Linked DNA regions of Homo sapiens. The protein of the gene in region 3 purifies or fractionates together with the protein of the main gene of each other region. This does not show direct contact. Each region holds a gene or a part of one and is shown on either strand. Other genes may lie near its edges.

Region 1 (3,649 bases), on a different chromosome or scaffold from region 3:
CGTCTACTGCTGCAATTACCTTTAATGCCTCCACTTCATATTTCAGTCTTTGGTTATCAGCCTGCAAGTCTCTATTTCTTTGTTCAGCCTGTACTAATTGTGCCTCCAACTCTGCTTCTAATTCTCTGCTTCCTTCCTGGAATTCAACTAGCTCATCCCGAGCTTCCTGGAAGCTAATCAGAAACAAAGTGGGAAAGACGAGTTACACTAAGAACCACAAGGATTGTCTTGGAGGTGATTATAGAGCAATTCGATAATTTTTGCTTGAATGCTAATGCTCTCATAAAATATACTAAAGACAATCTGTTTTGCATCTCTTACTGTATATATTCAGGGTTCAATGAAAACGACAAGCCCAAAAAGGAGCCACAAGTCAGTGATTACAATATTTATGAAAAGTAAGGCTACGTGGCTCAATACCATTAGCTTCTTCCACCACAGAACTCAGATGCGAGAAAAATGCATTTTTACTTTCATTAAAGTAACAAATTTGGCATTTCCTTCTACCATATTCAACAGAAATCACACATATTTTCACATCACAATAGAATCGTTGCATGTATCTCTAAATATATTTATTTTCATGACTATTTCAAAATTAGGTAGTTATTACATTCACTTCTGTATCTTTTTTTATTTAATGCATTAATAGAGAAGTACATGTTACTATGCCATAAATTAGTTTAATATTTAGATAACTTTTTTCAATATAATTGATTTTCTTTGTAATTCTATTATTCTATGCATTTAAAAATATTATGCTGAGGAGTCCACAGGCTACCCCAGCCCATTAAGACATCTATGACACAGAAAAAGATTAAGAACCCTGCCATAGATACACACCTTTCATATCCACTGGCACAATAGAATAACTGACTTCGGTGATAATAATGAAAGGGCAGTAAAAGGTTTGATAAGACTTAGTAAACTCTGTTAACCAAAATAGGAAAATGTATCAATATTTTATTTAGCAAGATCCCATTTTTAAAAAAGAAATTTGAGACAAGTTTTGTTGCTTAAAAGGTTGTTGCCTGAAAGTTCTCCCAACCAAATAACTGAAATTTTATAAAACGTTCCATGCCCCTGAAGCTTCTCCCCCTCCCTCAAAGCTTTGCTGGCTCCAGACACTGATCATGCTTGCCTGAGGAGAACGTAAAGTCTGTTCTATGGAGCCCCAGACAGCTTATCAGAATCTCCAAATGACCAAAATGATGAGGCAGAATCAGTGCATGCAAAACGGGCCAAAGATGGCCCCGCCTACTAAAAAGCATAGAACAGGTAACAATCAGAAGAAATCATAAATGACAGTTTTCCTACTATTTTAATAATTTGAACAATATAAAGACTTATGGCATGTTTACACTATTTAAATACAACCCATGTGGTGACTGTTTGTAGAATCTCAATCCTAGAATCCTAAATCTGCAATTCTAAATTTAGCTTTATGTTAAAAAGAAAAATGCACAAACAAGACACGGTGTATTCCAAATGCCCTCCCCTACTTTTAGTGTGCTTTCCAACATTACCTTTGCTTATACTTCAAGGAAAGTTCCTTCCAATAAGCAGTTTCCTCCTTTAAACTTGAAAAATCTGGTATATCTTCACCATCCATGATCAAGAAAGCCTGTGAAATATTAAAGACAAACTTAACAAATTAGAGAACAGAGAAATCTAAGCACAAGCATAAAATCTGGGACAACACTGAACTGCAGCATTTTGGAGGGAATAAAACATGAGAGATTCCAGTGGTTAACTCTCTTCAAACTCAGGCACGTCAATCACTCCACTGCTCCACTCTCAGGGACCACCAATATTGTGAATGAGATCATGACAAAGGTCCTTTGATACAAAGCGACAGGAGGCACTTTTGGTTGCAGCATAGGCGCTGGGTGACTTGGGCCCACAGAATCATCCTGCACACAGAGTTGCAGCAGTTGGTTTAAGGCCACGTGGTCTTCTGCGAATCGGGAGACAGAAACAAGCTTATTGTCAGAGATGCTGCTACCGCATGCATGCTGCCCTTCCCAGGTATACAACTGCTTCAAAACATCTGCTTGGAACATTTTATGCCAGGTGACCCTACTAGAAAATCAGGCACCACATTCCCAATAATTTACTATTATCAAATCTCTAAAAACCTCCTGTTAATCATCTTTTAAGTCCAAAGCTTCCTTCCAAAAGCCCACTAATCTCCAACTTCAATGATCTCTCTCTCTCATCCTGGTTCTTCTCTCCCAAGGCATTCAGAGAGGAGAAAAAAAGCGATTTAATTAACTAACATTTGGACTGGCTACCTACAACTCCCAACTGATCGTCAGGCCCACTCTAGAGGCATGCCTACTGCTTCCTAGCACCCCCTCCCCAGGCATCCCACTCTATATTCTGGCAGTACTGTTCGAAACTGTCTTAACACACCAGGCTCTTTCAGGCATGGAAAACTACTCCAGGTTTTCTCTACCTGGAGTGGCTCCCCTAAATAGGAAAACTACTATTTATCCTTAAAACCTAATTGTCATCTTTTCCAGAGAGGTTTTCTTGCCCTCAACTGGACAGCATTAAAATCTCTTGCATTCTTTGCTACCTCTGTACCCCACACATGCTTTCACTGATATTATTACCACAGGGCAATGCATTTGCTTACACCTTTGTGTTGCCTGTTAGGCTGGCTTACTTATTTCCGTCTCAGCCCAATGCCTGCACAATAGTGGATACTCAATGATATTTACTGAATTAAACCATAATTGATTCAACCTATTCCATACTAGGCAGCAAGAACTCAAGACCAGCTTTAAAAGTAAATTAATAGGCTAGGTGTGGTGGCTCATGCCTGTAATCCCAGCACTTTGGGAGGCCGAGGCGGGCGGATCACGAGGTCAGGAGATTGAGACCATCCTGGCTAACACGGTGAAACCCCATCTCTGCTAAAAATACAAAAAATTAGCCGGGCGTGGTGGCAGGCGCCTGTAGTCCCACCTACTCGGGAGGAGAATGGTGTGAACCCGGGAGGCGGAGCTTGCAGTGAGCCAAGATTGCGCCACTGCACTCCAGCCTGGGGGACAGAGCGAGACTCCGTCTAAAAATCTAAAAAAAAAAAAAAAAAAAAAAAGTAAATAAATAAAAACCTGGAGATGCATAGAACTTGGAGTTTATCTAGCACAAGCCACTCAGGAAGGTTTAGCAAAAAAAAAAAAAAATCTTTTTAAAGGAATGAACGGTTAAATCTCTCCACATCATCAAACATAGAACACAGTGGAAGTTCAATAAATATTTGAATTGAGGCTGGACACGGTGGCTCATGCCTGTAATCCCAACACATGGGGAGGCTGAGGCAGGAGGACTGCTTGAGCCCAGAAGCAATGAGGCTGCAGTAAGCCATGATTTTGAGGCTGCAGTGAGCCATGATTGTGCCACTGCACTCCAGCCTGGGCAACACAGCAAGACCCTGTCTCTAAAATAAATAAATAAATATGTGAACTGATTTATAATCATCCTTTCAATATTCCCTCTTGACTTTCAAAGTACCACTTTATTAACATCTGAATTCCTACTTCAGGAATGGAGTAAGCAAAAAGATGTGCGGGTAGTTTACTTCCACCTTACAATGTACCACCATATATTAAATCAATATTAGAAAACCTATCATTATCAG
Region 2 (3,649 bases), on a different chromosome or scaffold from region 3:
GCTCAGAACCCACCCCGGGCCAGGCACAGTAATCCCAGTTCTTTGGGAGGTCAAGGCCAAGGATCATTGAGCCTAAGAGTTTGAGATCAGCCTAGGCAACGTAGTGAGACCCTGTCTCTACAAAAAAATAAAATTAGCCAGGTGTGGTGGTGCATGCCTGTAGTCCCAGCTACTCAGGAGGCTGAAGTGGGAGGATCGCTTGAGCCCAGGAGTTGGAGGCTGCAGTGAGCTATGATCACGCCACTGCACTTCAGTCTGGGCAACAGAGCAAGACCTTGTCTCAACAACAACAACAAAAACCCATCCCCTCCCTGGCTTTCCTCACAGGGAGCAGTCTCTCCTCCGGAACAGAATTCCCAGTGTGTCTGAGCATCAAAACATCCAAGAGCTTAGAAACTATGCAGACGACGGGTGCTGGCCCCAGCGTCTGACTAGCAGGCCCGGTGGGGCCCAGAAACGTGCGTGGTGTGATTCTGATGCACGCGGGATGCAGACGACATTCAGGGACGCTGTCCCCGCTCCTGGAACACTTCTGAGTGATTTGCTAGGCACCTGGAGCGCCTCTTCAGCGTCTCAGGCTTTGCCACCCCAGGACTGAGGAAGACGTCCCCACTCCCTTCCTACCCTCACGGCCACGCCTCCCACCACAAGCCCCAGCCCCGCTAGGCTAAGACTTCACAGAAGACAAGTACCACTCACTCCCCAAAAAGACACCAAGCCAACAACCCCTGGGGACACGGCTCCCCACAGCCCACCCACTCCAAGAGATAGACCCACCCTGCGCCGGAGAAGCGAGGCTCCCACCATGCTGTGGGGAGCGCTGCTGACCCTTGCAGGAGCAGTGGCCAGTGCGGTGAGAAGGCAGCCTGGGGGAAGAGGGCGTGGCTGCTGGCTGGGGGCGTGGCTTCGGACGAGGGCGGGGCGTGTGCGCCAGGGGGCGGGGCTGCGGGCCAGGGTGCAGAGGCAGCGGTTGTGGGCCCAAGGCCACGCTCCCGAGGGTTGGGCTTGTGTGTGGCCTGGAGGAGGCATGTCCCCCTCCCTGGACCTCCCCTGCAACTCCCCCCGCCCCTGGCCTGATGGCTTCCAGATGCTGGGCTCTCAGCAGAGGCTGCCGGCCCCACCCGAAGCCGCAGCCCCGGCCTCTTCCTGAGGGGCCCTCCCGGGGTGCCCTGTTCCAGGACTGGGCCAAGGGGGCTCATGCCCCTGAATGTGGGAGAACAGGAAAAGGGTTCTGGGCAGCTCCTGCTCCATTGATGAAGGCAGTCTGGGGTCAAGGGGCTGCCAAGTCTAACTCCCCTGCTGTGTGCCCTGGCCCCTTCGCCAGCCTGCAGGCGGAAAGGAGTTTGCACGGACCCCGGAGGCAGCACATCTGCAACAGCTGGAAACAGCCGTGGCCTTCCTGGCCCCACCCAGCCTGCCCATCTGTCCAGCCTTGGCTCCCTGTGGGACCCTGGACGCATCGCTGCCCCTTCCCCGGCCTCGGCTTCCTCTCCCAATAGAGAGGTGTCCAACGCCGGAAGTCTGGATGCAAATCAGCCTCCTTCCGTCCTCATCAAGCCAAGCCCCCTCCTCCATCAGGACCCAAAGGCCCAGGGCCTGCACCCAGGGTACAAGTCTCTTACAGGGTCTTGAAATGTCCGCACTGCAAAAGGGGCCCGGGCCCCCCACTTTCCATGAGACTTTAGGGTGCAGGGCAGAGAGGGGATGGTTTTAGGGTCGGTCAGCTGGATGTCAGTGCTCTCACTTCTCCCGGTTCCCCTGCCCTGAAGTGGAGGTGATAGGGGGACTGGAGCAGGCCTGCTGCACGGCTGTGTGTGGCCCAGCCTTAGGGCGGAGTCCAGGCTCCCAGGCCTGGCACAAACTCAGACCATACCATGTCTGAGAGGCCAGCAGGCCAAGGGGACCAGGACTGCTCTGCAGTGGGTGGCTTAAAGCTGGGGCTCTTTGGAGGTAAGAGGTGGGAAGAGATGTCCATAGGAAGCCACAACACAAGGTAAGTGCAATCTTGAGGCATCACCATCCCCCTCAGGAGAGATGTGGGGAGAGACCCCTGCCCACCCAGCCCCTGGGTCCCTCCTGGCAATGCCCAAAAGCCAGAGCTGACTAGGGGGTGAAAAGGGAGCACCAAGTCCAGCCTTGGGCCACCTGAGAGCTGGCCCTCCTGGAGGGTCCACAACAGAGGGATACATTTTTTTTTTTAAGTTTTTGGCGAGAATTTTCTCACTGAATTGTCACAATGTTCCTGAGTCAGGTGGCCTGAAGACTCCCATGTAAAGAGGGGGGCACAGAGGTTTGGGTAGGGTCCAGCTGCAGCAAGCGCTGGGCGTGAACCCTGACCCCAGAGCAGGTGTCAGGCCATAGGGCAGAATGAGCTCTGACCGGCCCACAGAGCCAGATGCCCCAACTGGCAGGTGACAGTTATCCCTGTAAAAGAGAAGACTAGGCCGGGCACAGTGGCTCACACCTATAATCCTAGCACTTTGGGAGGCCAAAGTAGGAGGATCGCTTGAGCCCCAGAGTTCAAGACCAGCCTGGGCAACATAGTGAGACCCCATCACTAGAAAAAATTAATCAGCCAGGCATGGTGGAGTGTCCCTATTGTTCCAGCAACTGAGGAGGCTAAGGTGGGAGGATGTAATAAGCCCAGGAGGTTGAGGCTGCAGTGAGCTGTGATCATGTCACTGTACTCCAGCCTGGGCAACAGAGTGAGACCTTGTCTCAAAAAAAAAAAAAAAAAAAAAAAAAAAGGACCAGGCATTCGGAAATCGCTGTAATCGTGTAACTCTTTTTATTATTCACAGACCTCGTTGACATTTTTCCCTGCCTGATTCTCACAAAACCCAGTGGGGTGGCCGAGATTACAGTGAGCAAGCAATGCAGGGTCGTGGGAAGGAAGGTGATGATCCCAAGGTCAAGTAGCCAGACCTGGCACAACAGCAACCTGCAGATGCCAACCCACTGAAGCGCCTCTACTGACTGCTAGTTCACACAGCCCGCCACTTATCAGAAGCGGGTGTGTGACTGCAAGCTCAGCCATCACCCCTGCCCCTCTGAACACAAGCCCACAAGTGAGGTGACTTGCCCAAGGTCACACCCAGCAGCTGGGCAGGGCAGGGTGCAGCCAGATGCACCCTTCTGCACCTCCCGGCCCAAGTCCCACCAACTCCTCTGCTCTTGGGAGCTGACCCTCAGCCTCTTCCGTCCCTTCCCCGCAAGGCAGCCCACTAACTGGGAGACCAAAGGAGACCACCAGACCCCAGTCCCGAAAACCCCAGCCGGAAGTTCTCACAAGGAAGAGGAGCTGGGGCTGGGATCAGGGGCCTGTGTCGCCTCCTCCTCTGCATCAGAATCTGCCGGCCCAGCTTCTCCAATGCTCCATCCTGCCTCCTTCCTCTCCAAAGCCATCAGCCCAGTCTCCTGGCTCAGAAACCAGCTGCTGGCTAACCTAGTGCTTAACTTAGGTTAAGCACTTTCTTAAATCCAAGAAAGCAAATTTCCCCCCAAAAGGTACAGTTCCTCGTGGGACCTGAATCTGCCACCAAGACCCTCAAATATAACTCACCTAAATTGCCCTGGAAGTACCCGCCGACAGAGTCCTTTAATAGAATGCATTCTAACCAAGGCTTCTGATTGGTGGAATAGGAGCTAA
Region 3 (3,649 bases):
CAGCCTCACAAGTAGCCGGGACAACAGGCGCACGCCACCATGCCCAGCTAATTTTTGTAGTTTTAGTAGAGACGGAGTTTCACCATGTTGGCCAGACTGGTCTCGAACTCCTGACCTCAGGTGATCCACCCCGCTCGGCCTCCCAAAGTGCCCAGTTCTGGGCCGGGTGCGGTGGCCACTCTATCGCCCACGCAGAAGTACAGTGGCATGATCTGGGCTCACTGCAACATCCACCTCCCAGGCTCAAGAGATCCTCCCACCTCAGCCTCCTGAGTAGCTGAAACTACAGATGTGCGCCACCATGCCTGGCTATTTTTTTTTTTTTTTTTTTTTTTTTTGTAGAGATAGGGTTTCGCCATGTTGGCTAGCCTGGTCTCAAACTCCTGGGCTCAAGTGATCTGCCCGCCTCAGCCTCTCAAAGTGCCGGGATTACAGGTGTGAGCCACTGTGCCCGGCCTATCTTTTTAAAATGAGAGCATCCCCAGTTCCTTAGCCTTCAAACCTCCAGTGAGGAGGTGCATTTCCTGTTCTTTCAGTTGCCCATAGGCCAGGGGCTGCTGCATGAGAAATAAGAGTGGGCATTCAGGTGAAAGCATTTAAGGGGTTCTAGGCTAGCTCTTTTGCTTTCAAGTAAACACTCACTGATTAAAAACATCTTCAAGCTGTAGGAGTCTTGACTTCATTTTGTCAACCTACCTTAGCCGCATTAACTGAAACAGTCATTTGAGTTAATCAGCTGCTTTTAAACATACAGGGAAGTAAAGGTGATGTGGTGCTATGATACATACATTGGTTTTCACCCATGGTTCCTGGCTCCTAACTTCCCTAGTCCTTGTTATAATGTTGGGGCACTTTAGGTCTCAGGAAACAGAATCTTTCTCTCTTTGACCTTCTCCTGCCCTCCTTTTACCTGCCCAAGGTAGGACTCTAATCTGATTGTGGGTTAAAAGATCCTCATCCCAGAGAGGGTCCTGCCCCATACCCTAGAGCAAACTTGTCCAACCCACAGCCCACAGGCCGCATGTGGCCCGGGATGGCTTTGAATGTGGCCCAACACCAATTTGCAAACTTTCTTAAAACATTATGAGATTTTTTTGCAATTTTTTTTTTTTTAGCTCATCAGCTATCGTTAGTGTTATTGTATTTTATGTGTGGCCCGACAATTCTTCTTCCAGTGTGACCCAGGGAAACCAAAAGATTGGACACCTCTGCCCTAGAGAAAGGAACGCTGCATAGAGGCCAAGAAAAGTCTGAACAGACAGGCCTTGCTGGGTTTAGATCATGTGCTTTTCATCCAGTCACATTTCTACATGGTTGTCAATCATGCCTCTGTAACAAATCTTCCATAAAAACCCGAGAGGACAGGGTTTGGGAACCTTCTGGATGGCTGAACATGTGGAGGTTCCTGAAGGGTGGCGTGCCCAGGGAGGGCATGGAAGCTCCACACCCCCTGCCCCTTACCTCACCCTGCCCATCTCTTCTCTGTATCCTTTGTGGTATCCTCTGTAGTTAACTGGTAAACATTAACTATTTCCCTGAGTTCTGTGAGCCGCACTAGCAAATTAATCGAACCCAAAGAGGGGGTCGTGGGAACCCCAACTTGAAGCTGGTTGGTCAGAAGTTCTGGAGGCCTGGCTAGGCATGGCGTCTCATGCCTGTAATCCCAGCACTTTGGGAGGCCGAGGCAGGCAGATCACTTGAGGTCAGGAGTTCGAGACCAGCCTGGCCAACATGGCAAAACCTTCTCTTTAGTAAAAAAATTACAAAAATTAGCTGGGCATGGTGGCGGGCGCCTGTAATCCCAGTTACTCAGGAGGCTGAGGCAGCAGAATAGTTTGAATCCGGGAAGCAGAGGTTGCAGTGAGCCGAGATCACGCACTGCACTCCAGCCCGGGTCACAGAGCGAGACTCAGTCTTAAAAAAAAAAAAAAAAAAGTTCTGGAGGCCTGGACTTGTGACTAGTGTCTGGTTGGGGGCCATTCTTGGGGACCAAGCCCTTAACCTGTGGCTTGGTCTGACATTATGTCCAGGTAGACAGTGTCAGAACTGAATCAGAGGACACCTAGTTGGTGTCCATTTATCAGAGTGTGGGGTTCCCCACACTCATTTGGTCACAGAAGTCTTCTGTGTTGAGGGTTGTTGTTGTGGTGTGAGAGCAGAGGAAAAACCAAGTTTGACAGAGGTTTTTCTCAAACAGGTGGCATTCACCAACAGACTATCTGCCTCAGTTGTACTGCCTGCCTGCCCACTTCCTCGTTCCTCCCTCTTCTATACCCTGGCCAGTCAAGTTGGAGGGGGACCTCAGAAAGGACAGGGGAAACAGAGGAAGTAGAAATTTTTGACTGGGGCTGGGCGTGGTGGCTCACGCCTGTAATCCCAGCACTTTGGAAGGCCAAGGCAGGTGGATCACGAGGTCAGGAATTCGAGACCAGCCTGGTCAACATAGTGAAACCCCGTCTCTACTGAAAATACAAAAATTAGCCAGGCATGGTGGCGTGCACCTGTAATCCCAGCTACTCGGAAGGCTGAGGCAGGAGAATCGCTTGAACCCGGGAGGTGGAGGTTGCAGTGAGCCGAGATTGCGTCACTGCACTCCAACTTGGGCGACAGAGCAATACTTCTTCCAAAAAAAAAAAAAGAAATTTTTGACTGGAGGGGCGGTCTGCAGCAAGCTGGAACCACCTAGAAGGTGGAGTTTGAAATGCCCAAAGAAATACCATTCATTCTCCTTGTCCCACTCTTATTCCCCATCCCACTTGGTCACTTCTAGGGCATAGTTAATTCACTACTCATTTATTGAAGGTCTACAATGTATCAGACCCTGTGTTAGTCCTCAGCATAGAGCCTAAGGGAGTTCAACACTTCTGACAAGGAAATGACTGGTAGGGGCAAGCGGAGAGGAAACAGGCCCTTAATTCACTGAATGACTTGATGAACTAGGAAGAGGAGCCGTATTTTATATCAGTTTCTTTTATAGAGTCTCAATATCAAATATACACAATTAAAAAGAAGAACCATAGGAAGTCCTTTTTTCGCAGACTTCTCCCATCTGATACAGAGATAAGTCCTATCAATTGTTCCCCTTAGAATCTCAGAGTCAGGGCAGGCAACCCTGATAATCCGCCAATGATGTCATCTCAGTCCATGCATCTTAAACTTTTGATTTGCTAGGGCGGCACTGTTCCCTTTTCTGTTCTTCCTCCCACCCCCACACATACATGCACAGAAGCTTTTTCCAGTGAGACTGGATACACTGGTGAATTGCAGCAACCCCTTCCTTTCAGCCAGCACAGATACAACACACACCCTGGATATGTGTAATTATAACTGCCAATACTTCAACCTAACAGGTTGGCAGCCAGTGCAGCCAAACATAAGCTCATGAAGTGCTTATTCAATAAAGAAATAGTGTTGGTTATGAACAATTTCAGAGCTGCAGGGACCCAAACTAACGTTTATTAGATAAGATAGACAAGCGGTTGTGAAGTTCCAGGGCGGGGGGGTCTTCTATTTGATACATCTGAAAGCCACCCATTACAATAACCTAGCTCCCAACAGACTACTGAGTGGACTCTTGATCGTCAATCCAACTAAGCAGATATTTCTGCTGTGCAATGGTAGACAGAGACCTGAACTAAGGAGCCAGAAG

Evidence for each region.
Region 1: the proteins of SLC25A43 (region 3) and NDEL1 purify together in Homo sapiens (affinity purification with mass spectrometry; 2 studies listed by BioGRID and IntAct, with this or other methods). This does not show direct contact.
Region 2: the proteins of SLC25A43 (region 3) and TFAP4 purify together in Homo sapiens (affinity purification with mass spectrometry; one large-scale study listed by BioGRID and IntAct). This does not show direct contact.

The regions. Positions count from the first base shown.
Region 1 is NC_000017.11:8,442,235-8,445,883, reverse strand, and holds part of NDEL1 (nuclear distribution protein nudE-like 1), read right to left. Parts: intron 1,958-3,649; exon of another isoform or gene 1,735-1,957; coding exon of another isoform or gene 1,708-1,734; intron 1,625-1,707; coding exon of another isoform or gene 1,613-1,624; coding exon 1,527-1,612; intron 174-1,526; coding exon 20-173; intron 1-19. UniProt on the Homo sapiens protein: Required for organization of the cellular microtubule array and microtubule anchoring at the centrosome. May regulate microtubule organization at least in part by targeting the microtubule severing protein KATNA1 to the centrosome.
Region 2 is NC_000016.10:4,262,890-4,266,538, forward strand, and holds part of TFAP4 (transcription factor AP-4), read right to left. Parts: exon of another isoform or gene 3,613-3,649; coding exon of another isoform or gene 3,563-3,612; exon of another isoform or gene 2,802-3,562; intron 1,994-2,801; exon of another isoform or gene 1,461-1,993; coding exon of another isoform or gene 778-1,460; intron 1-777.
Region 3 is NC_000023.11:119,402,285-119,405,933, reverse strand, and holds part of SLC25A43 (solute carrier family 25 member 43), read right to left. Parts: intron 1-3,649.